Regions from separate parts of the Homo sapiens genome. Here region 1 is linked to region 2. Evidence: fine-mapped expression QTL. A gene starts in region 2. The other region holds a variant in brackets. All regions are shown on one strand. Distances are from middle to middle. Region 1 overlaps ELMOD1 (ELMO domain containing 1). Region 2 holds the start of ELMOD1 (ELMO domain containing 1).

What was found. PIP is the estimated chance that this variant, and not a neighbour inherited with it, causes the effect.
Region 1: its variant is the best candidate, but not a certain one, in a credible set for the expression of ELMOD1 in lung (TOPMed, PIP 0.66).

What each region holds. Positions count from the first base shown.
Region 1 is chr11:107,608,289-107,620,938 of GRCh38, reverse strand. ELMOD1 (ELMO domain containing 1) reads right to left here. Exons shown (of 12, transcript NM_018712.4): 2 at 2,733-2,834. The coding sequence starts at 2,749. Among named protein-coding and RNA genes, the nearest start is that of ELMOD1, 23 kb to the right of the region's middle. The variant A/G (reference allele first, on the strand shown) is at 6,352.
Region 2 is chr11:107,584,580-107,597,229 of GRCh38, reverse strand. It overlaps ELMOD1 (ELMO domain containing 1), which reads right to left and starts at 6,083. Exons shown (of 12, transcript NM_018712.4): 1 at 5,821-6,083. It also overlaps the pseudogene SUCLG2P3. RefSeq lists an enhancer at 5,581-5,640 and silencers at 5,891-6,030, 6,091-6,200.

The DNA of each region.
Region 1 (12,650 bases), 24 kb before region 2:
GATCACATGTAGATATGTTTTGTTATCCATGTTTTCCCATGTTTTCTTTTTCTTTTCTCTTCTTTTTTTTGTTTTTGAGACGGAGTCTCGCTCTTTTGCCAGGCTGGAATGCAGTGGCATTATCTCGGCTCACCTTAACTTCTGACTCCCTGGTTCAAGCGATTCTCCTGCCTCAGCTTCCTAAGTAACTGGGACTACAGGCATGTGCCACCACACCCAGTTAATTTCTGTATTTTTAGTAGAGATGGTTTCACCATGTTGGCCAGGATGGTCTCGATCTCTTGACCTCGTGATCTGCCCGCCTAGGCCTCCCAAAATGCTGGGATTACGGGCGTGAGCCACCACGCCCAGCCTCATGTTTTCTTTTCATGCACATCATGGCTAAAGTCAGACTGGATGGTCTGGGGATACATACCCAATATCCCATTTCTATCCTCAATTTAAAATACACATTTTAGCCAGGTGTACTAATCAAATAGCATTTATTCCTTATATTTCATGTAATTTTTGACATACATTGAATATTTTCTCTATTCCTTTTTGCTCTGAATATTTATACCATTAATATATCTGATGGTAGCAATTGGGTATCATGTATCCTAAATGTAGATCAAAATCCATTTTTTCCCACAACCTGGTTTCTCTAAGGTTAACCTAATTTCTTCTGGGACTGTGCATGGAGCATTTCATTCTAGAACATCTCAGAAGTTGACAGATTAATCACTGCATGGGCTTTTAAATAATGCTGAATTCTTCCCAGTGAAAAGTCAGCTCCTCATTCTCCATAATACATTTGCTGAGCTCAGGAATTAACATCTGATTCATTCAGGCTTTGCTTACATAACCTTCTCTTTGGTTCAAATGAAAAGATTGCCAAAATCGTCCAACATCTGTGGAAATGGACTACAGAAAATAAATCAACTAAAGAAGGGAAATGATCAAGTTTCCTTTTATTATTTCAAAACCAATGGTCAATGAAAATCCTCAAGTTTCTGTTTTAATGTACAATCTGTTATCCTAGCTTTAGTTTCACATAAATAATCAATGCCATATAATATTTATAAAATATACACTCCAAGATACATGAAAAAAATGTTTATCAGAACACATAACTAATAGGGATGTGTTGGTTCTGTAACCCTTGGTGCTAGTCTATGCAAAATTACAATGGTAGATTTTCACTGTACCAGTTCTAAATCATCATATACAAATTAATTTAAAAATGTACTCTTTGTGCACCTATTCAGTTTAACAATAAAACTAACAGAACCAAAGGCTACTATTTTTCCTAAAATTACTGGTTTTGAGGCTGCTCAAGTTTTTCTAAAACAAATAAGACATCGAGGAAGAAATTGAGTAGTACAAGACTTGGCAACCTTACCACCATCATCACCACTTTTACAAAGGGAGCTCCTAAATTCTAAGCTTCATCTCACACTAAAGCTTTCTGTTAACATGATTCTGCAGATGAAAGACACCATGTTTACATTCAGGAGGTGTGCACAAATGCCAAATTTTCATGAATGTATAGATAGATCAGTTAATTACCATGACAACCAAGAACATATTAGGTCAAATACTTGGCTGGCAAATGTCCTCCTGATTTTTCAAATACTATATTTTTACACAGCTAAGATAAACAGTATTCTGTACAATAAAACAAATGCTGATGACTATAAATTGTTTCACAGTAACTTCCTGAGAGGTTTTCACAATTCGAAGATCCAGTAAACTACCAGTAGCTGCATCAAAACCCAGTGAATCCCACACAAACTGATCTGGGTGCTCCAGAAACAACAATGGAACCAAAACCACTGGGGTGGGGGGCAGTGGATCTTAAATTATGGCCATTGTAGGAATCAAATCATTTCTTAAAAGATGCAAGCCTATTAATTTGCTTAGAGAAAACAGGCCCGAGTGAAAGACAAGAATGTGTAACAGAAGCAGGTCACCATCTTGAGGAAAAGAAGCCCGATCTTCTGGAAAGTATGTTGTATTTTCTCACATTCAGGACCTGACTAACTTTATTTTGCCGTATTTTAATATTATGCAAAATTTATCTGGGAATTCCATTAATAGACAACTGAATGACAGTCAATACTCTTGAAAATAATTATAACTTTAGGTCCAGTCAAATGCTTTTCAAAACTAAAAAAGATCACCCCAAACATACCAATTTATGGCATACTCTGTCCAGCACAATCTTCAGGGAACCAACAATTGATACAAATTTCAGAGACATCACTGAGGTAAGAAGAGCGGAAGCTTAGAACATATAGTTTGACCGCCCACAAAATTTTAAAATGCCCATATGGATTGGCCAGCCAACCAAAATCTAAATTAAAGGATATTTAAAAGGATACTTATTTCCAGAAAATGATTTTACACAAATTGTATTAAGTGATTCATTGACAGCTATTTCCTTAAACCTTTCAGGCCAGCGGTGTACCACTGTGCAGAGACACATGGCACCAGGGCTGTCTAAAGTGCCATGCTTTTGTGCCCACACTCTCTCGCCATCTACAAGTGCTCTGTCTTATCATCAGCACGCATATAGAGTTAGCAGAGGAATCTCATGGCCAAGTTATTCTTAGCAAAAATGCAGTGCTATTTCACAGAATCTTAGGAGTCCTGGTCACAGGATCACAAACGATGACTGGTAATATTACCCTAACCAGTGAGGAGGTTTCTCCCACTGCAGAGGGCTCAGCCAGGGAACCGTAAACACATACCTCAGGAAGTGCTTCATGGTGCCCGTGTTGACTGTCCAGATGCTATATGAACTGTCCTCAAGTAATTGCTTCCAAATTTGCCTTTGTCAAAGTAAGTGTCAACTGTGGGAAGAAATTAGATATTAGGTATATTTACTAATAAGGCTGGAAGCTGCAAACCAAAAATTTCTGCTTACTGAGGCAAGCAGTTAACATGCCAGCCACCCAGAACATTATCAACAGAACTGCCCACAGAGCAATGCAATTCAATGGATAGAGGTTACAGGTATAGACTTTATATTAATACAATTAGCCTTTCATTTTAAGTCACTTGCTGGAGAAATTATGAATTTCATGAGCAATCTCTTCAATATCAGTCTTTTCCTTTATTTTGGGTATTGTTCCTATATCTTTAGGAATAGTATTCCTAAGAAAAATAAAAATGAAGAACAATAAAATTAACCAACTGGATTTCCAGATATCCAATAGTCTAGTATCTGGCGGCCCCAACTTTGTAGAAGTACAACTCAAAAATAACTGGAACCAACTAACTTCAAGATAAAAGACAACTGTTAAAGAGCTCAAGCTCAAGAATCACTTAAAGCGCAAGATACTACAAAGAAATGAATGATGCCCCAGGCCCCATTGTCTTTTGGCACTGTGAACAGAGCAGTGAGATTTGATATTTGCATGGCACTTTTTGGTTTATGATTTGCTTTCACAAAGTGTACATCAGGTTATCAGCCTTCTTCCTTTTGATAAGGAAGACACTAGGAGCAGCCTGCAAAGCAGCAAGTTAGGATGAGAGGGGATAAAACAGACTATAGAAGAGAGAGTGTCTGCAAGTGGAGAGAAGTTATCTCATGAGAAAAGAGAGAAATGGAACATCCACTGCAGCAGAAATGCAAGGAAACGAATATACATTCGAAAAAGAGCTGCGGGCAGAGACACATTGCCAACTAGAACAGCCCAGAGTGTGGGAACTCATACTTAGCTCGAATAAAAGCCAGTCTCTTATTTAACACGTTTATTTCTGTAAATATTCCATACATGCTTGAAAAAACTGTCTATACACCAATTTAAGACTGTGGTTGCTTTTGGGAAGAGAGGTGGGGTTTAGGATTGGAAGGAGAAAAATGATCTTCTCAACTTTGTGTGTTTTATTTCTTAAAATATATCTGAGGCAAAATAAAAGGAAAATAACGTTTATTCATTTTGAGTGGTGGGAACATATATTATCCTTTGTACTTTTGTGTTTTTTCTAAATGAATCCAAATTTTAATTTAATTTGGTTAGTTCCCACCCAACACTCGGATCATAATTTCTAATACATTCAACAATAAAGGCATCTAGGGGACCCTGGGAAATGGTTGATTCTAAAGCTGGGTCAGGGCAAGGTGAACCTGAAGCATATTGCAGCACAAGAAAGTCAAGAAGTGCTCAAGGTAAACAAAATAGGCGTGTGTCAAATAAACACAACAATCAACTGAAAGAACTCCCAATGGTCAAATAATTGACGTAGCCACTCTGCCCTCAAGTAGGTGGAGCAGGCCAGGCACCCTGGCTCACGCCTGTAATCCCAGCACTTTGGGAAACCGAGGCAGGCAGATCACTTGAGGTCAGGCGTTCAAGACCAGCATGGCCAACATGAAGAAACCTCATCTCTACTAAAAATACAGAAATTGGCTGGGTGTGGTAGTGCGTGCCTATAGTCCCAGTTACTCAGGAGATTGAGGCAGGAGAATCACTTGAACCGGGAGGTGGAGGTTACAGTGACCCGAGAATGCGCCACTGCACTCCAGCCTGGGTGAAGGAGTGAGACTCTGTCTCAAAAACAAACCAAACAAAAACCTCCCTATCCCTTAAATATAAACTGGACATATGACTTTCTGAGTACAGTGTGGATAGGGGAAAAAAGAATAACTACAGTAGGGCTGGGCACAGTGGCTCACACCTGTAATCTCAGCACTTTGGAAGGTGGAGGCAGGCAGATCACTTGAGGCCAGCAGTTTGAGACCAGCCTGGCCAACATGGCAAAACCCCATCTCTACTAAAAATACAAAAATTAGCCAGGTGTGGTGGTGGGCACCTGTAATCCCAGCTACTTGGGAGGCTGAGGCAGGAGAATTGCTTGAACCTGGGAGGCAGAGGTTGCAGTGAGGCAAGATGGCACCACTGCACTCCAGCCTGGGCAACAAAGTGAGACTCTGTCTCAAAAAAAAAAAAAAAAAAAAAAAAAAAAGGAAAAACCTGACAAACACTGCCTCAGCCAGGTGATCAAGGCTAAGATCACCAGTGATAAGTCATGTTGATAGCATGTAACCTTGACCTGATATGATGAAAATGGCACTTTACTCCCCCAAACATATAACCCCAGTCTAATCATGAGAACATTCGACAAACCCCAATTCAAGGGCATGCCACAAAATATCTAATCAGTACCCCTCAAAACTCTGAAAAGCTTAAAAAACAAGGAAAGTCTAAGAAACTATCACAGCCAAGAGGTGCAAGCCAAAGGAGCTATGACTATTACACGTAATGTATTATCCTGATTGGATCCTGGAATAGAAAAAAGGACATTAGGTAAAAACTAAGAAAAATTGAATGAAGCAAGGACTTTAGTTAATAATAAGGTATCAGTATTGGTCCATTAGTTGTGACAAATGTATAATATTAACGTAAGATGCTGACAACAGGCTGGGTGTGGTGGCTCACGCCTGTAATCCCAGCACTTTGGGAGGCCGAGGTGGGTGGATCACGAGGTGAGGAGATCGAGACCATCCTGGCCAACATGGTGAAACCCCGTCTCTACTAAAAATACAAAATTAGCTGGGTGTGGCAGCGCGTGCCTGTAATCCCAGCTACTTGGGAGGCTGAGGCAGGAGAATCGCTTGAACCCGGGAGGCAGAGGTTGCAGTGAGCCGAGATCACGCCACTGCACTCCAGCCTGGTGACAGAGTGAGACTACGTCTCAAAAAAAAAAAAAAAAAAAAAAAAAGATGCTGACAACAGGGGAAAGTATAAGGGAACCCTCTGTACTATCTTTGTAGCTTTTCTGTAAATCTAAAACTGTTTTCAAAATAGTTTATAAAATATGTTAATGCCTGCTACGCTCTAGACATAGTGAGGCACTAGGGATACTATAGGGTAAACAAAAGGGGCATAGCTCTACCCTGTAGATGCAACAGTCTTTGGGGAGGAGAGGAGAGAAGATGATACAGAGAAACAAACAGGGACTTAAATACAGTATTACAAGTGGAAATAGGTGCTGTGGCAGTGAGTAGGAGAGATGCTTAGCCTAGATGTAGGGGTTGGGGGTTCTCCAGATAGCACATGCAAAGCTCTAAAGGCAAAAGAGTGCAGAATATGTATAAGAGATAAAGTTCCAACATGACTTAGTGTGGTGCTCAGTGAGAGGGATGGGAAAAATAGTGATGGCAAGATAAGGAAAAGCAAGTAAGGGTCAGATCAAGCAGGCTTAGTAAGTAATGTTGAAGTTTGAACCTTATCTGAAGAGCAATAAGGAGCTATTGAAAGCTTTCCAGCTGAGATGTGACATGATCAGATCTCTAGTTTAAAAAATACACTCTGGGCCGGGCATGGTGGCTTATGCCTGTAATCCCAGCACTTTGGGAGGCCG[A/G]GGCGGGTGGATCACGAGGTCAGGAGATCGAGACCATCCTGGCCAACATGGTGAAACCCTGTCTGTACTAAAAATACAAAAATTAGCCGGGTGTGGTGGTGTGTGCCTGTAGCCCCAGTTACTCAGGAGGCTGAGGCAGGAGAATTGCTTGAACCCGGGAGGTGGAAGTTGCAGTGAGCCAAGATTGCACCATTGCACTCCAGCCTGGGCAACAGAGACTCCGTCTCAAAACAAAACAAAACAAAATACTCTGATTGTAATATGAAGAATAAATTGTAATATGAGGAATAAATCCTATACCTAAAATTATAGATATAGGATACCATCTACAGACTTGTTGCAATAACCCAGGCAAAGATATTAATGGCAGGATAAGGCAATGGACAGACAGAGGTGTGAAAGATATGAGAGATAGTTAGAAGGTAGATTCAATAGGACCTTTGTTAATTGATTGACTGCGGCAGTGGTTGGCAAAGGAAAAGGGGGAGTTGAACATTATGTCCATGTTTGTGGCCAGCAACTGGATAGACAGAGGAATTATTCATTAAGATATGATATTTTGGAGAAGCATATTTGGGGATCTGGGTATAAAAAGGTCTTTGGAACATTTTTAGTTTTCAGGACCAAGTGGTAAAGATTCATGGATCTGAAGGTCAGGAAGACAACACAGGTTGGAAACAAAGATTTGGGCTTCCTCAGCATGTAGATGGTAATTAAAACCATAGTTCAGAAGGAATTACTAAATAAGTAGCATATATGACACTTGTTCATAACAAAAGCTCTTTGTCATTAGGATATGATTGAAAAAGAACTCTCATGCAACTAAGGTAGTAAAGAATGGATTGCATTTTAGAAATAGTTTATCTAAATTTTTAACAATTCTGTACTGTTAAGTGGTTTGATTTCAGTTAACTATAAAATTGGCTTACCTGAAAAAAATTTTATTTCATAATGATGTGAGATAAGTGAAATAATACTTTAACTCCCCGTTCTTTACATAATAGTTCTTGAATTTATCCCTTGTAAAAACTTCTTGAATGTTTATGTGTCCAATATTGTGCTGAGTAACGCAGCATAGTTTAATACAGTAAAAGAGCCTTCCTATTAAGAGAAAATTTGGCAGATATGGCAGGGAGTGTGCATGGTGGTTGAGAGCACAAGTTTTGGAGACAAAGTTCTTGTCTAGGATCTACCACTAGCCAAGTGGCAGCTTTAGACAAGTTGCTTGACCTCTCTAGGATTAAATGGGGTAAGTAATTAAATTAGCTTGTAGGATTGTTCTAAGGATTAAAAGAACCAAAGCATGTAAGGCACTCAGCATAGTTACAGGTATTTAATATACATTCAGTGAGTAGTATTTATTATTAGTATTATAATTTTGTCATTCTTATTATGTTCTCCTCTAAAGTAAAAGATCATTTTGTCAAGTGAAGAATCACTTAAGAGACTGTTAAAATAAATTCTCGCAAGTTGGTGTGACCTGAACTGGGATGATGACTGTGGGGAGGGAGAGAACTGAACAGAAGTAAAAAATATTTAGAAGGTAGAATCAACTGGACTTGCTGATTGAATGGGAAAAGTGAAGGGAAGGAAAATAACCATTAGTTCTAATTGTCTGTCCCCCAAACAGGAAACAAAGATAACAATTAGATCTCATTATCTGTCCCCCAAACAGGAAACACCAAAAATGGCTTTGGGTGGCAGAAGAAGCCTGTGCAAATGCTATTTAACTCATTATTCACAGAATATTCATTAAATAACTATGCTAAATGTTTTATATAGAAAATGAAAAATTACTGTTTCTTTTTAAAGTCAAGTAGCTTTGTTTTAAAGGAGACCCACTTGTTAATGTTCTATTTGCTGTTAATTAGACAATCTGTGTTTAGCAAATCATAGCTGTGTGTGTGATGTTCTGAGCCACTATTGATAAGAAATGCCCTTTGAATTATTTTTCCATGAGTGGTACTGAGCTCATCTATTTCATTCTACTAAGCCTCTGCTATAGCCAAACCAGCATTTCCCAAGTGGTTCAGCAGGACCTAAGCATGGGGAGAATTTTTTCAAGATAATTTCAACTTTTATTTTAAATTCAGGGAGTATATTTGCAGGTTTGTTATATGCGTATGTTGCGTGATGCTGAGGTTTAGGTACAATCGATCCTGTCACCCAGGTAGTGAGCATAGTATCCAATAGTTAGTTTTTCAACCTTTGCTCCCCTCCTCCCTCCCAACTCTAGTAGTCACCAGTGTCTATTGTTGCCATCTTTATGTCCATAAGTACCCAATGTTTAGCTCCCACCTATAAGTGAGAACATCTGGTATTTTGTTTTCCGTGTTAATTTTCTTAGGATAATGGCATCCAGCTGTATCCATGTTGCTTCAAAGGACATGATTTTATTCCATTTTATGGCTGTGTAGTATTCTATGGTATACATAACACATATTCTTTATCCAGTTCACTGTTAATGGGCACCTTGGTTGATCCCATGTCTTTGTTATTGTGAACATATGCTGTGACGAACATATGCATTTGTCTTTTTGTCGAATGATTTATTTTCTTTTGGATATATACCCAACAGTGGGATTGCTGGGTCAAATGGTAGATCGTTTTAAGGTCTTTGAGATATTGCCAAACTGCTTTCCATAGTGGCTGAACTAATTTACATTCCCACCAGCAGTGTATAACATTCCCTTTTCTCCCAGCCTTGCCAGCATCTGCTGTTTTTGGACTTCTTAATAATAGCCATTCTTGCTAATGTGAGATGGTATCTCATTGTGGTTTTGATTTGCATTTTCTTCATGTTTGTTGGCTGCTTGTATGTCTTCTATTGAGAAGTGTCTGTTCGTGTCTTTTGCCCACTTTTTTTTTTTTTTTTTTTTTTTTGAGATGGAGTCTGGCTCTGTTGCCCAAGATGGAGTGCAGTGGCTTGATCTATGCTCACTGCAAGCTCCACCTCCCAGGTTCACGCCATTCTCCTGCTTCAGCCTCCAGAGTAGCTGGGACTACAGGCACCTGCCACCACGACCGGCTAATTTTTTAAAAAATATTTTTAGTAGAGATGAGGTTTCACCGTGTTAGCCAGGATGGTCTCGATCTCCTGACCTTGTGATCCGCCCACCTCGGCCTCCCAAAGTGCTGGGAATCCAGACATGAGCCACCACACCCAGCCTTGGCCACTTTTTAATGAGGTGATTTGTTTTTTGGATGTTGAATTGTTCAAGTTCCTTATAGATGCTGGTTTTAGATCCTTGTCAGATGCATAGTTTGTGACTATTTTCTCCCATTCTGTCTGTTGTCTGTTTACTTTGTCAATAATTTCTTTTGCCATGCAGAAGTTCTTTAGTTTAATTAAGCCTGGTTTTAGACCCTTGTCAGATGCATAGTTTGTGAATATTTTCTCCCATTCTGTCAGTTGTCTGTTTACTCTGTTGATAGTTTCTTTTGCTGTGTAGAAGCTCTTTAATTAAGTCCCACATATCAATTTTTGTTTTTTGTTGCAATTGCTTTTGAAGACTTAGTCATAAATTCTTTCCCAAGGCTGATATCCAGAATGATGTTCCCTAGGTTTTCTTTTTTTTTTTTTTTTTTTGGATTCTTACAGTTTGAGGTTTTACATTTAAATCTTTAATCCATCTTGAGTTAATTTTTGTAGATAGTGATAGGTTGGGTTCCAATTCCATTCTTCTGCATATGGCTAGCATGCTATCCCAGCATCATTTATGGAATACAGAGCCCTTTCAGGATAGGAAGAATTTAAGTTCACTCTTCTTCTGCATAGCATTCTAACAATGAGGCGGCCATGATACACTTCTCCTGTGTTTTTACACATCAGCCTGTTGACTTCAATATGGTTACATGTAAGCCTGGTTTATACCTGTTTCATTAATTGAAAAATACAGATATTTACTTTTTTTTTTTTTTTTTTTAGATAGGATCTCACCCTGTCACCCAGGGTGGAGTGCAGTGGCACAATCTTGGCTCACTGCAACCTCTGCCTCCCGGTTTCAAGCAATTCTGTGTCTCAGCCTCCCGAGTAGCTCAGATTACAGGCATACACCACCACACACAGCTAATTTTTGTATTTTTAGTACAGACGGGGTTTTGACATGTTGGCCAGGCTGGTCTCGAACTCCCGGCCTCAAGTGATCTGCCCACCTTGGCCTCCCAAAGTACTGTGATCACTTTACCACCAGGCCTGGCCCAGATATTGACGTTTTATTTGTGTAATTCAGCTTTACTCAGTTATTAGTTACATATAGAAAAATTCACCCTTTTTGTTCATACATAAACTTTAATGCCACCTGCTTCACAAAAATCAAGATGAACATAAAAATCATTCTCTGTGCTGAACCTTCCCAAAGACTTCCTCTCTAGAGGTGTTTTTCAAGCGAGACATTAGAATTACCTGCTCTGTGTTACTAATAAATCGCTAATATTGTTCCAAAATTATCTGTTTCATGTCTCCTTCTGCTCTGGACTGTATGCTTTTCTAGGACACCCATGGACGGGTACAATGCCTGACACACTGCTTGCTTAATATATACTTGTCAAAATGAACTTTGTACTTTTTTAGAAAAGTACTTTTTTACCAGCATTACTCAATCACAGTACTAATAAAACAAACTGCAAATCTCCCAATTGGAAGAAAACAAATCTGTAGATTTATTTTTAACTAAAATAAAGAATATGATTATAATCCTGGGTTTACTAACCTGTTCCCCTGATTTGTAGTAATTTTTCTCAATGTATACAGGGACATTGGCCTGAACTCATCCAAAGGGAAGGATCAAATGATTGTGCTTGTCATATCAAACGCCCCTAGAGATCAGTTGATACTTCAGTGCTAAGCTATGAGGTTATCTGCCTCTTGTCTTTTTTTCTTTTCCAGCTGAGAGAAAAGGGGCAGTAATGAGTGTGGTCTGCTACTTCTGAAAACTCATCCTCTCGCCCGGCATCAAGAAACCAGCCTTGCTTCCTTTGAGCAAGAAGCCCCCTGAGGCTCTTTGTAAAGTGCTACGGGGTAACCCTAACTCTTAGAAGTCGATCTCTCTATTAAGCACCCCAGGGAATGAATTAGAGACTCAACTAGAAGGGACGGAACTCCTTTCTTTAAAATCTTGAAATCCCTAGATGAGACAAAGAAAGCTACTTTCTGCGTAGCTCTTCACATTCCAAGTTTATCCCCTGTAACAACCAAAAGGCTGGTGGACTCATACTGTTTATACATAAATAAAAGGTAATCTACAAAGTAAATACTATTTCATTTTTATAATCTTCCTAATTTGAGATTACCCCAGTTTAATAAAAAGTTGTAGACAGCACATTTATAAACAAAATTTTATTTTAAAAGTTAAGTCTTAGCTTAAAGTTTTATAAAATTAATGATAATAGCAAATATTCACAAAGTACTTATTATGTGCCAGGCAATATGCTGTAAGCTTTACTAGTATTAACTCACTTAATCTTAACTGTCATCTTATGAAGTGAACAATAACAATTATCTCCATTTTGCAGCTGAGGAAATTGAAACACAGAGAGGGTAAGGAACCTTCCAAGGTCACACAAATAGGATGTGGCAGAGATTCAAACCCTTTCAGCTTGGCTCCCGAGGTAGTGCTATTAATCACTTTCCTGTGCTCCCTCTGGAAATCAAAGGTAAACCTCTGGATTGACATGAGAATAAAGAGAATACACAGTATATTCATTTCAAACTAAACTGCAAAGCTAGGGATAATCAAAGCCAGGATGTACATACGCATCTGAATAACAGTGTTCCTCTGGGAGCTACCTGGAGGACTCCCATATAAAAACAGTTACCCTGCCACTGAAAAATAAACTCTCTCCTTTCCTGAAGCAAATGTATTACAGATCTAGAAGTTTCTAAACCAGAAAATTTTATGGGAAGAAATTATACAATGGAGCGAAAATACATGAGTTTTATATTATTCTTTACTGAGGCTTCATTTCCAAGGCAATAAAAACTGTTGGCAGTATAATTCTGAAATAACTAAAAGTAAAAATATCCCCCACCCAAAATGTAAATCAAGGCTTTCTAAACCTTGGGTTTAGAAAATCCAGTGAAATTCAAGCTTCCGGTCCACACTGTAACTTATGTGGTGATTTCGTTCTTCAGTCTTCAGCTTTTTTCTTCAGTTCAGTCTACCTCTGCATGCTTAAGTCTTCGTAATACATCACACCTTTCCCTTTACAGGTGAAAATATGTTTTTTTTTAAAGATACATAAAATATATCTAGTGGCTGGTAAAATATTTCAAATCACCTAGGAGATATATACTAACT
Region 2 (12,650 bases):
GGGCTAAGAGATTTCAAATTTAATCCTGATTGTCATCCAAATTCTCTATTGCTTTGAGCTTTGCATTATGATCTATGTACATCTGAGTCCTTGATAAAATTGTAGAAATGTCATGGTCAAATAAAGAGCTGTAAGGTAGACCAACAGAAACCAGCTTCTATGTTGGCTTCCATACCTATGAACATTCTTTGGATGTAGCTGATCAACCCAGCTATGACACTACATTCCAGATCTCATTTCTGCCCCTCACCCATAAAGATTACTCAATATTCTAGCTGATAAATGTGTGCTAGAGGGATTGTGTATATATAAAAATTTGATAATTCTGCCTCTATTTTAAATATTCCAGGTTATCTACAGTTTAAAGGAATAGTAGAGGAAATTTTTGGTACAGCATAAAACTCTTTAGTGAAGTAAAAACTATAACTCAACCCATCTGTTTCATAAGTCTTGATTTTAATATATTGGATTCACATATTGGGCTACATATACATTATCCATGAGACAGAATATGAAAGTCAAAATTCTATGTAAAGTATTTTAATAAAGGCTTTTAAAATTATGACTAATGATGTACATAATAGGCATTTTAATTTAAATAGCTTTGATAAATGTTTATCATTTTAAGAGAATGTACAATTGAGCTTCTCAACTAAAAGCAATTATTTAAGTTTTTGCTCATTTCAGTGGATTATAAAGCAAAGGAAATCTGAAATTAACATGTCAGTGTTTATGGAATATGGAATCTTCAGAAAATCTGGCTTCCAAATTCTGAAGAGCGGAATATTCCTATTCTTTTAAAGGAAAAAGTAAGAAATGTACAGTAAATTCATTCCAAAGATTGATTAATTCACATTTTAAATATTGATAATGCCAACTGGTAAAGTAAAAAAGATTTAGGGAACAGAGTTTCTGATGTCACTGATGATATCTGTTAAGTCAAAAAACAGCTGTGAGATAAATAAATTATTAGTTTCATTATGAATGAAACCTTCAAAACATATGGTAGCCTTTCACCAACTACTTGTACACAAAAAAAATAAAAAATAGAAAGGAGAGTTATAACAGCTGAAATGAGCTCTTAAAACCAGCATTCTAATTACCCAAGTCCTAATCCCAATAATTAAAATGGAAACATTTAAAAGTTATGTAAAGACTTTTGAATCTACAGTTATTGCCTTGCATGAGACTGATTTTTTAAAAAGGCTTAACAAGCTCTCCTTAGGCATTTGCCACAATTATTTTGCCTTGCACCAAAAAAGCAAAAAAAATCAAATTGTGAATTATTTTGATGGCATCTTAAATATCATATAGAGTACCCAGACATTGTACAAATCATCTACTTTCATTGAGAATAAAGTTATTCATCCCTTGGAACCATAGAAACACTTAAGAGTTTATTTTATAGATACTGAGATTAGGGCTGGCACAATATTATTTTTTTAATTTGCATACCTTCCATTTTACAGCATAGAAACTGATATAAAATATGACTTGCTCATGGTCAGCATAAGTGAGTTGGAAGGTTAAAAGCTCCCAGGATGAAAGAACATACTGTCTTCAGAATCTTTAAATTCAGAGTATCCACTGAGGACTTAGAATATAAAATGTAAATTGGGCACACAATTTCAGTTAAGGTTCTCTCTGGGTGATATTCCACATAAACTGTCATTGAGGATTACTGCAGTAAGCCTTTCTTTAATAAGCCGTGTTCATGCGAAGCCTTGCTGAAAACAAAACCTATGGCCTAATTGCCTTGAAATTTTAGCAACATCAATACATTCTTGATCATATTTTTTTATCATATACTATCAGAATTATAAGGCAGAATGTGTTTGGCAAACATTGCAAACAGGAACAGTAGAAAAACCTGAAGTAGAACTGTTTTCTGCTCTGTTGAAAGGATAATCATTTGAGAAAAAAGACCCTAATGAGCTACTTAGTTATAAGTTTTAGTATAGGGTAATTTTTATAATTTTAAGACCTTATTATAAAATTGAAGTGGAAATTTAACCACACATATGGACACTCAAACACATGAGGCTCTTCTGAAGGATGGTTCCAAAAAAAAAAAAACAGATTTATTGACAGAAGGGCAATCTAGAACGACATTGTATTATCAGTTGCTGGAGTCTGCAAATTGGAATCTTCAAGAAATGAGTAACTGTTCTCTACATGGACTGCAGTGGTTTGATCATCAACTTTCCTGGAAATTTACCACGTTATTCAATAATGAAAGTAGCTTCTGGGTCTTCAAAGACACACATGTATGTGGTGTGCCAGTTTTTTGGAATTAACTGCATTTGGAACATTCTGACTAGGTCCTCTGTGGTACTACAAGCATAGAGTCATTTTCACATAGTGCTATTTCTGTAAAATGTACACTCTTTCCATCATCAGAATCTAGTTTTTTAAAGATAGCTGGATCAAATCAGAAATGATCTCAATTTAATTTCTTTTCCTACTTGAAGCAACAGATTTGCTAAAACCAAGACATCTGCTTATCTTATTTCAGAAATTTGTGCCAAGAAGAAACTGACTATTGATCGGCATCTCAAATATTATATTTAATTATCTACTTTTATATAATTGTAATAAAACATTTAAATGATATATTCCAGTATTGTGTGATGACAACTTTTTACCTGAGGAGACCAAGATGGTAACAGAATAGTAAACTAGCACTTAGGGTATGAGTCAAGAGCAGATCAATTGCTATTTTAAATGCACTGAGGTCCATTCACCGAAGTACCATTTGCTAATTCCTGCACTTGTCCCTTTTCAGCTCTCTCTTCCATTCCCATTGGCAACTATTTAAAATCTTTCTTTCAGAATCCCCCTCCCTTCCCTCATTCTCAGCAGGCCACTCTGTCCTCTCACTGAGGCTATCAGATCAAATCCTTCAACTTCCAGCACCACTCTACTAACTATTAACACAGAGATTTTTTTTTTTTCTCATTTTCGCCCAGGATAAGATCTCGCTCTCTTATTCAAGGCCAGCCCTGTCAAAACTGCTAGGCGTCTCACTCCCTGACTACAGCTGCCCAGCATAATTCAGTGCCTCTTCTAGGCTCCTACAGTAGACACGCCCCTCCACCACCACCATAAACACACACTACTGGCACAGCAACTCCCAGAACTTATGATGCAGATCCCTCCCCCTGCCCCATTTCCCCATGTCATCTTTGCATCCTTGGCACCTTCCACTAAGCCTAGCAAGCAGAGATACCCAACCAATATGTGTTGAAGTGAAACTGTTCACTTTTAAGCATGAGTTATTTTCAAAAGCTTGAACCAGAACTGAGCTTGTCCCAGATTGTCTGCAGAACAGCATATGATTTCTGCTCCACTTTATTTTTTCAACCCATAAATGACCCAAAAAGGAGGAATGAAACATTTCCAGTAACTAAGGTTGCCAGAAAAATACAGGCTGCCCAGTCGAAACTGAATTTAGGATAAACAACTAATAATATTTTGTAGTATAAGTTCGTACCAAATATTACATGGGACATAGGTAAAAACAATAATTCACTGTTTATCTGAAATTCAAATTTAACTGGGCAGCCCACCTTTTTATTTGCTAAATCTGGAAAACCTAACAGTGCTTTGTTAAAAATTCTCAGAGGACTCGGAGAACGCTTCCTTTAATGCACCTGGGGATTTGTATGCAAGCTCCGCAAACTTCTCAATCATCCAGATTTCATGTCTGTTAATGCAACTAGGTTTCTTTCTGAACATCTCAGTAACGTGCTTTAAGAAATGCTGCTTAATTTATTACATGACATTTTCACTTATTTTGTCCATTTCATAGAATTTTTCTTATAATACAATTTATCGAAGATTTTACAAAGAATACTGTAATTTTGCTTAAGATCTCTTGGAAAGCTAACATTTATAGAGTTATTATCATGCCTCAGTTAAGTCCTGGCTGCAAGTATTAATTTTTGAAATTTTCATATTTTCAATTAAATCAGCAGAATGCAAAAAGAGAAATAAACAAATCTTTGATTTGGAGATTTATTTTCTTCATTAATCAAGCACAGCAATACATAGTATCCTTACTAACAGCCTTGCAGAAGCAGCCTGGCAGGCGGAGGTGGAGCCTGTGATGTAACTGCGGTAGGTCTTTGTTGGAAAAGCCTTCCCTAAATGTAAAACATCTGTAAATTGAAGCACTTCAGCTTCACTGTGCATGGGCTGGCAAGATTAAAGAGTTGCTTCTTTCAGCATCCTGTACTGGAGGCTTAAAATTTTGTTCCACAGAGGAATTCCTTATAGGTCTTTACGAAGATTACGTATCTATCTCACCAAAGCTGGGAGAAAAGCAGGCTTTTTCTGCAAAAGAGAACCATTTCGAGTACTGATTGCTGTGTGTGCTGGTTTACTGGTAAATGGTGGTGATGCAATGGAAGTTATAACCCAAAGTGTAGGAAGACGCCCTACAACCTGTTCCAGTCCTCAACGTTCCCTACGTTAATGGGTTCTTCTTTCAGTGTTCTTGACAGTGATGTCTTACAGAGAAGACATTTATTTCTTCTTCCTATGAAAAAGATTAAGATGAGAGAAATACCTCCCAATGTAGATACAAGAGTGTGCCTTTGGCAAAATACCAACTAAACTGACCCCCGAGAAAACTTCTGGGGGAGGGAATGACTAAGTCTGCTGTAACTACGTGTTGTCATAATAGGTTAATGAATTAAGACATTTATCCCAATACAAGCATACTACCTGCTTTCCACCATATTGGCAGCACCAGTTAAGGACGGTTGTCAAGCCACCGGCACAAAACGTATACATTGCAGAGATGCAGAACAATGCCTGGATGCCTGCCCAAAATTGGTCTCTCCAAATGACAGACTCAATTGATAGTACCAATCTACGGCCCACTGGGGGTTAGCAGCGTATTTTCCTAGGTGGTGGGGGAAAGGGATGAAATGTGGAAAGCTCAGGGCACTGTGCAGAGCAGAAAGGCTGACAACATATTCATTAAACTTGATCTGAAGCAAGTGAGCCCGTGAGGTCGTTCCTGAAATATTCATAAGATGTGTTACCGAACTCGCCGCTTAGAGGTTGAGCATAAACACTGAGTCAGAACAGCCCGTACCCACACTTGGAAAACAAAAAAAAGCACCCACAACAGCTCACCCCACCACCACACTCCACTGCTCTGCTTTTAACAGCCCCGTCAGCTGTCAGCTGTCACTCCCCACTCGGCTGTCCAATTCTACCTGCCCGGGAAAGAGATGCTCCAATATTGAAGTGCGGAGTTTCCCAGCAGTTGGAGGAGGCGCAGCTCAACAGCCCAGCCGACCGCTCCTCCCAGCTCGCTGCGCGGAGGACCCCACAGTCCGGCGGCCCCGCAGCCCGGCTGCCTAGCTCCTCCCTGGAGACCGAAGCCCACAAGGCAAGGGGTTCCCAGGGACCCAGACCAGCCCCTCGCCCCAGCCAGGCCGCCCTTGTCCCGCCTTCCATTTTGGCTCTGTCTGGGATCCCTTCCCCGAGCCCTCGGCGTTAGGTCGCTAGGCGACCTACGCCCGGGCCGAGATGCAAACAGCCTCTCGCGCCGACCTGCAGCCTCTCGGGTGTTAATTGGGAGGACAGGATAGAAGGGGAAATCACTGTCCTGGGTGACCCCGGAGCCCCTGCACCAAGGCAGAGTGCACTTTCATTCCCGTTCCCTCTCTGCCCCCGATGCTTAGCATTTCTGCTGCCTCCCAGGCACAGCGCAGCTTGCGTGATGCCTCGCGTCCTCGCCGCACCTCTCTCCTCCCCAAGGGCATTCGCCCCTACTCCCTAGGCTCCTCTGGGGTCGCCAATCACCTGGACTCTGGCGGCGGTAGGCTCAGCAGCTCCCGGCGCGCGGCGGCGTGGTCTTCATCTCCGCCTTCCCCAGGCGCTCCGGCTACGCGCTCCGCGGCGGCGAGCGACGCGCTCGGTCCCGGGCGCCGAGGCTGGACAGGGGCGGCCGCGGCTGCCGCACTGGCTGCGGGCGCGGAAGGGGCGGGGGCGGGGCAGGAATCTGGGTCGCGTGGAGCGGAGCAAGCCGGGATGCACCCGGGGCGGCTGGCGGCGAGGAGGCGACCGAGAGCAGCGGGGGAGGGCGTGCAGAGGCTTCCCTGGGAGCACGAAGCGGGCGGCTACTGAGCATGCCCAGTCCGGGAGCCGGGGGCGCGGGCGCGGTGCTGGGGGAGAGAGCGCGGCACCCAGTGCCGGAATCTGGGGGGAAAGGGTTAAATCTGCGGACCCCGCTGCTGTGGGAGGTGGCTGGTGTGGCCCAGTTTAATTGCTCCCGGGTGGCCTCCCTGGAGGAGCCCACGACAGGAAGATGGTGAACCTGAGATGACCTGTCAATGGGATTCCCAGACAGTCCGGGCAAGGTGTGTTCCCCGCCCTCTCCCTGGATAATTGTCCAGAAGTCAAACTTTGTTTTAGTTCAGCTCCAACCTCCCTCGTCTCACCGAGCACCCAGTGACTCTTCCAATCCTGATCCCCACCCTTCACCTGCCTTCCCGGGACTGCAGAACCCTATCCCTCACCCCAACCGGCAGCCCCCGCCTTTCCCACTCCTGGCCCAGTCGGGTCAGATTCTCAAAGAGCCAGCTCTTTAATTAGGTGTAATTGAGAGATCGTGTCAATCCTGCGAGGTCCATATCTGCATTTCAACAAGGGCTTTAGAAGCAATACCGTAACCCCGGGGTTAATTATAACAGGATGAATTATAGACACCCTCGTCCGGGGCTGTTTGGGGGAACATTGCTTCGTGGGGCCCCAGAAGCCACTTCATACAGACAGAGAGAGAGAGAGAGAGAGAGAGAGAGAGAGAGAGAGAGAGAGAGAGAGAGAGAGAGAGAGAGAGAGAGAGAGAGAGAGAGAGAGAGAGAGAGAGAGAGAGAGAGAAACCTGTGCCTTCCGGATTGCATTTCATGTTTGATGAAGAACGTTTTCTCCATAGCTAATCAAAAAAGTCTCTTTAATGAGGCCGCATGGGGTTGGGGAAAGACCAAATGAGCTTCGAGGTCGGCGCTTATTTTAGTTTCATTCATCACTCCAAGCCGGTTACCTGACCGTCTTGTGCCTCTGTTTCCTCACCTGTAAAACAAAGGGTGGTTAATACCTACCTCTGCGGGCTGTTGTGAGGATTACTTGGGCAGCTGGCGGCGCGGAGCAGCCTGGATACCAAAGCATCTGCCTGTCCCGCAGTGGATGTTCCCTGAATAAAAGTCTCTGCAGGTTCCACCTCCACTATTCTGTGTTTATGAAAAGTTGGGTTAGTGATAATCCTTAAATGCTGAACATTTATCTTATTTCCTCTTCACATTAAATGACCTTAAAGCCTTGACCTTTCTGATTTTTTTAATCATTGTTAAAAGCATTAGCCACTATTTACTTTTCTTTCTTTTCAGGGAGATATGAAGGATACCTCCCTGAATAAACGTCTTGGAAAAAGATAGACCTTTGGAGGGAAAAGCTTCTCGGGAGAGATTCATTAGGGATAGATTAATCCACCTGACAAAAGAATTTTACTCCATAGTCTTTTAAACGTAATTTGCTTGCATCTCCCTGTGGTCCTTGTTTCACAACTATTGCATGAAGTAATGTATGCCTGTATGGAAGGAAATTTACTTCCCATGCATACTGTTGACTATTTAAGTATCAGAATTCAAAAGATAAACTTTTTATTATCCCCCAAACATACTATTTTTTTAATAACACATTGCTTTATTCATGGTGTTCCACCCTTTCTGAAATACCATTCTCAAAAAAAAAAAAAAAAAAAAAGAAATACCATTCTCTCTCATTCTATTTCATGAAGTGCTACTCACTCTTCAAGCTCAAATGTCACCTTCTCTCTGAAGCCTACCCTGAACCTCAAGACAGAGTGAATGCTGTGCTCTCATAGCACCAGTGCATACTGCTATCACAGTACTCATCACAGCCTATCACTGTGGTTCAAGCAATGTAAAACTACTTACTGAGCAACTGTTATTTGCAGGCGCCATTCTACATGTTAGGAAAATAAGAACAAACAAGACAAAGTTCCTGCCCTCATGGAACTTACAGTCTAGTTGAAAAAGACAGAAAATAAACACCTAAACTGTAAATAATCACTAAGGACAGAAGTCTAGTAATTCTGTTAATTTTTGTCTTTGTGTTATCCATCAAATTACGCTATAGAGTCTTGACTCATCCTTCCAAAAAACATCAATAAAAATATTAATATTGGCTCTAGGCCAAACAAATGACATGGACATGGATCTCTGCCAGTTTGTTGCTGAACCAGTGACTTTTACTCCTTTCAGTTGATTCCCTCAGCTAAAACTTTCCTAAACTCAAACCACTCAAGGTAGGTAGCTGCAATCCCATGTGATGAATGGAAAATGGTAGGGGAGGGCTAGAGAGTTTAATCTCCACAACAAATTATATCCTTTATCTAACCTTTAGGAATGGCATTTCTAAAATGTCCAGAATCAACCTGGATCCCCAGATCTCCTGCATCCCAAAAGTCTCTTCCAGGGTCTTGCACACCACTCCCACCCTCTCACCTTTTCACCATCTTTGGCCTCTATTTATGTCAATAGTTATTCTCTGTCATACATCTTCTGTTTGAATCTACCTACTGTCTGAATGACAAGCTTTTCTCTCTGATTCTCTTATTGTCTAAGTGTGAGGCAGCCTTGGTATCACTTAGAACTGACTTCTTCAAAGCATATTTGTACACATGTATGCCATAGCAATTAGAGACAATCTCGCCACTGTTTAATGTGAGTAATTCAAGGGGAGGGTCTCATTCATCTTTGTATTACAGAACTTAGCAGATGACCAATATGTAATAGATACTCAAGGAAAAGTGTGAAAGGAATGAATGAATGTAAGCAGGTTCTCAACTCTATGTGGCTCCTTAGACTATAGTTCTTTTCTAATTGGTTTTCTTGCTAACCCTAGAATTGCTTCACCAGGATCTGGCTCAGTTTTTCTTTTCATAATTTCTCTTCCACCACAAATCCACAGATTTCTCCACCTCTGGGTCCTGCATTATTTTGGGATAAAAATACCTATTGAACAGATTAACATGCAGTCAACAGAGAGGGTATTTGAAGAAACTGAGATCATGTGATGTAGCATTTACAGGTAATGAGTGAAGAATCCAGAGAGGAGAATGTTGTGCCTCTACAGCCTCCCCAGAGTTACAGCCGGAGAGCTGAAGAGGAAGGGGAAGAGCTAGGAGATGCTTTGTCATCAGCTTAGACTCCATACTGGCCCATTACAAGTGACACAGAATTTGAGTCTTTTCCAGACAGGTGGATATATTTCCTTGCTCAGAAGATCTGTTACTGAACATTATCATTTAGAATTTATTTGACTATAAATGTCCTCACCTAGAAATGTCTTCCTTTAGCAAAGGGTAGATTGAGCAATGGACAAGCAAGTTGGAATTTCCTGCCTGGATCATTTTGTGGGTGGGGTGGAAGTCATGGCCCATTTATGTATTTGTAATCTAGCACTGGTCTTAAGCACTGTGGGAGGAAAGTATTCTTCGATGTATTGGCTTCATAATAAAACTAGAAAGGGAATCTTTGGACTTAAAAAGCATGAAGTCTTGTCTAATTTTGCCTAATTGTTGTGTAAAGCTTAGAAATTAATGTAAGGCCACTCTGCTTTCCAATGGAATGGATTTTATAGGCTTATGGTATTCTGGACGTAAAACCACAGCAGCAGCTGGATTCAACATGCTCATTAATATCTATAGTGATAAAATTGTGACTGAGATTACATGAGGGTTAATCATCATGTTAGAGAATGCGTTAAACTAAACAAACTAAGACTCTCAGACATGCTGCTGTGGCAGTCCTCTAAATGTGATCTCGAGAGGGTTTCCAGTGGCACAAGGACTCATCCAAACCGTAATTCATGTCATAACCATTTATTAAGCACTTAGTATATATAAGGCACTATACTAGATACTGGGGATACAAAGCTGGATAAGACACTATGATTTTCAGGAACTCAGATCTGGACAGAAGCATACACACCGCTCCCTGCCCCAACACACACACACACAATGTAGGCTTTTTCTCAAGGTTGGTTTCCAATGTAGAATTAAATCTGTATGAAGTACCCTTCTCGCTGGGCATGGTGGCTGTTTCCTATAGTCCCCATTACTTGGGAGGCTGAGGTGGGAGGATCAATTGAGCCCAGGAATTTGAGACCAGCTTGGGCAACATAGTGAGACCCATCTCAATAAAATGAGGAAAAAAGGTCCCTTCTTCTCTCATCTCAGTTACCTAGTCAGACTCCTCTGTGCCTGGTTTTTGTTTAAGGTGTCATTCTCCTATGACAATGCAGGTCAAAAAATTTTGTGAATGCTGGTGCTCAGGCCCCACTCCTTTCAGAGAAGTCCAAGGGAGTTGAATTAACATCTAAAAGATGGCTGCTCCTGCAGGTACCTAAGAGCAAGAAACTGATGTCAGAAAACAGGGTAAAAGTTAGAATATTTCGTAACTGGCACTGGGTGTGATGTTCCCACAATAAAGTTTTAATGGGCTAATCCTGCAATGGCCTTTACTGATGGCAGCCTCCAGGAGAGGCGTTATAAGTGGCAGCTTCTTACCGGAATTTATTTTTAAGGAGGAAATTTACATTTTGAGGGCATAGAGAACAGTCAAGTTTAGTAAAGGGGAGAAAATGTAGGCTTCTACAGGTCTACAAAAATCAGGCTTAACCAGCTGTTTTACTGCTTCCTGAAATTATATGCTACTTAGCTTGAAGTGAAACCTTTGGTGAAACTCTGGAATGATAGGTTGTCTATTTTGATGTCATGATAAACCTTGAGGACAATGCAGAATGTCCACAAAAAACATATTTGGCATGGCCAACAAATTCAAGGTGTGTCTATCGAAAATGAAGCAACCAGATATGATCTAAAATTAAAACTAGATGGGAATCCTTACTAAGTGATGCTGGGCCATACATGGCTCTCTGAGACGTTATTACCCTTAATGATCAAAGCCCAGCCAACTTCTTAGATATTAGCAGTAGTGTAGAGGAAGCTCAGGTGTACTAAACATTTAAATTGCTCATTGCTGATCCTAAGTTTGAAATCACCGTCAACATTGTTTTAGGTGTGATAGTGAATTTTGCTGTCATTGCCAATGGCATCATCAAACACTGCTGAGAACTAGAACTCATGGCCCCTCTGGTGGTCAAGTTTGAAGGATTCAATGTCCAGGGGCCTTAAAATATGCTTAATAGCATCTAACTAACTCCCCATTACTTATGGCATTGACTTGGAGGATACAGCTAAGAAGGCTGTGGCCAGCATGGCAAAGAAATAGCCATGCTTCTTCTTTCTAATCCACTGGGAGGAGAAATCTCCATCCTAAAAAAAGGGGTGAATATCATCACTGAGAAAAAAATATCTATCCACTTGGGGAAAAAGGGGAAGGTGTAGAAGAGGGTCAGTAATCAGTAATAAAAAATCTTAAAGCTGTTCTGTATTTTCATGAATAGATATACAGATAGCCTAAATAATTCTGATTTCACATACAATCTTCATTAAAATAATGGTCTGTTTTTGCATGTTATGTTCTTTATCATGGTAAACCTGTCCATAGACAGTAAGTACTTGGCAAACAACGTGGATATAGTGAAAACTTTGAATCAGGCCCTAGTTATTTAAGAGAATTCTGCTGGACGTTTAGTTTAGAAGAATTAAAAAACTAGAGACAAAATCTCAGGCAAAATTACATTTCAAACAGATGGCTTGGTCATATTAAACTATTGAAAGGACACGACTAATACATTCTAACAATAGTTATTAGGCATTACAACATTTTAACAAGTTTCTTATTCTGGTATGTATGGCAAATTTGTGAGGTTGTTTTATTCCAAAATATTTTCTAATGCAAAAAATCCACATTTATACCCCACATGAGGATTGTATGATTTGACTTAATCTTTCTACTATTTACCTCACAATAAACATAAACACTAAGGCTTATTTGTGCCTATGGAACAGAAGTTTATTTTTATCTCAAAACTGAAGAATTCTGTCACTTTTGTCACCCAGCCTGGAGTGCAATGGTACGATCTCGGCTCACTGAAACTTCTGCCTCCTGGGTTCAAGCGATTCTTGTGCCTCAGCCTCCCAAGTAGCTGGGATTACAGGCATGCACCACCACGCCCAGCTAATTTTTGTATTTTTTAGTAGAGATGGTGTTTTGCCATGTTGTCCAAGCTGGTCTTGAACTCCTGACCTCAAATGATCCACCCACCTTGCCCTCCCAAAGTGCTGGGATTACAGGCCTGAGCCACTGTGGCCAGTCCTCTTTTTCTAGAATCTGCCAGCTTGTGGTAGAAAGATTTTAAAAAGTAATAAAATGTGTTCTTTTCCTTTTGTTTACATTTTGAAAAAAAATTTTTAAATATTTTTATAAATTTGAATAAAATCCTATATTATATGAGCTGTTAGCAACAAATTCTGTACTAAAGCAAAGAAAGGTAATCTTGCCACTTTGCAGTTATTTTCATAAGTCTAAAGCAAGAAATTTCCTCCATATTTTTGAAAATGTGAGTTGGTGGTGTCCTTTAATAAAGTCATGGATGAATGGATGGATGATGAGGGACAGATAGGTGAGTGAATGGCTGGATAG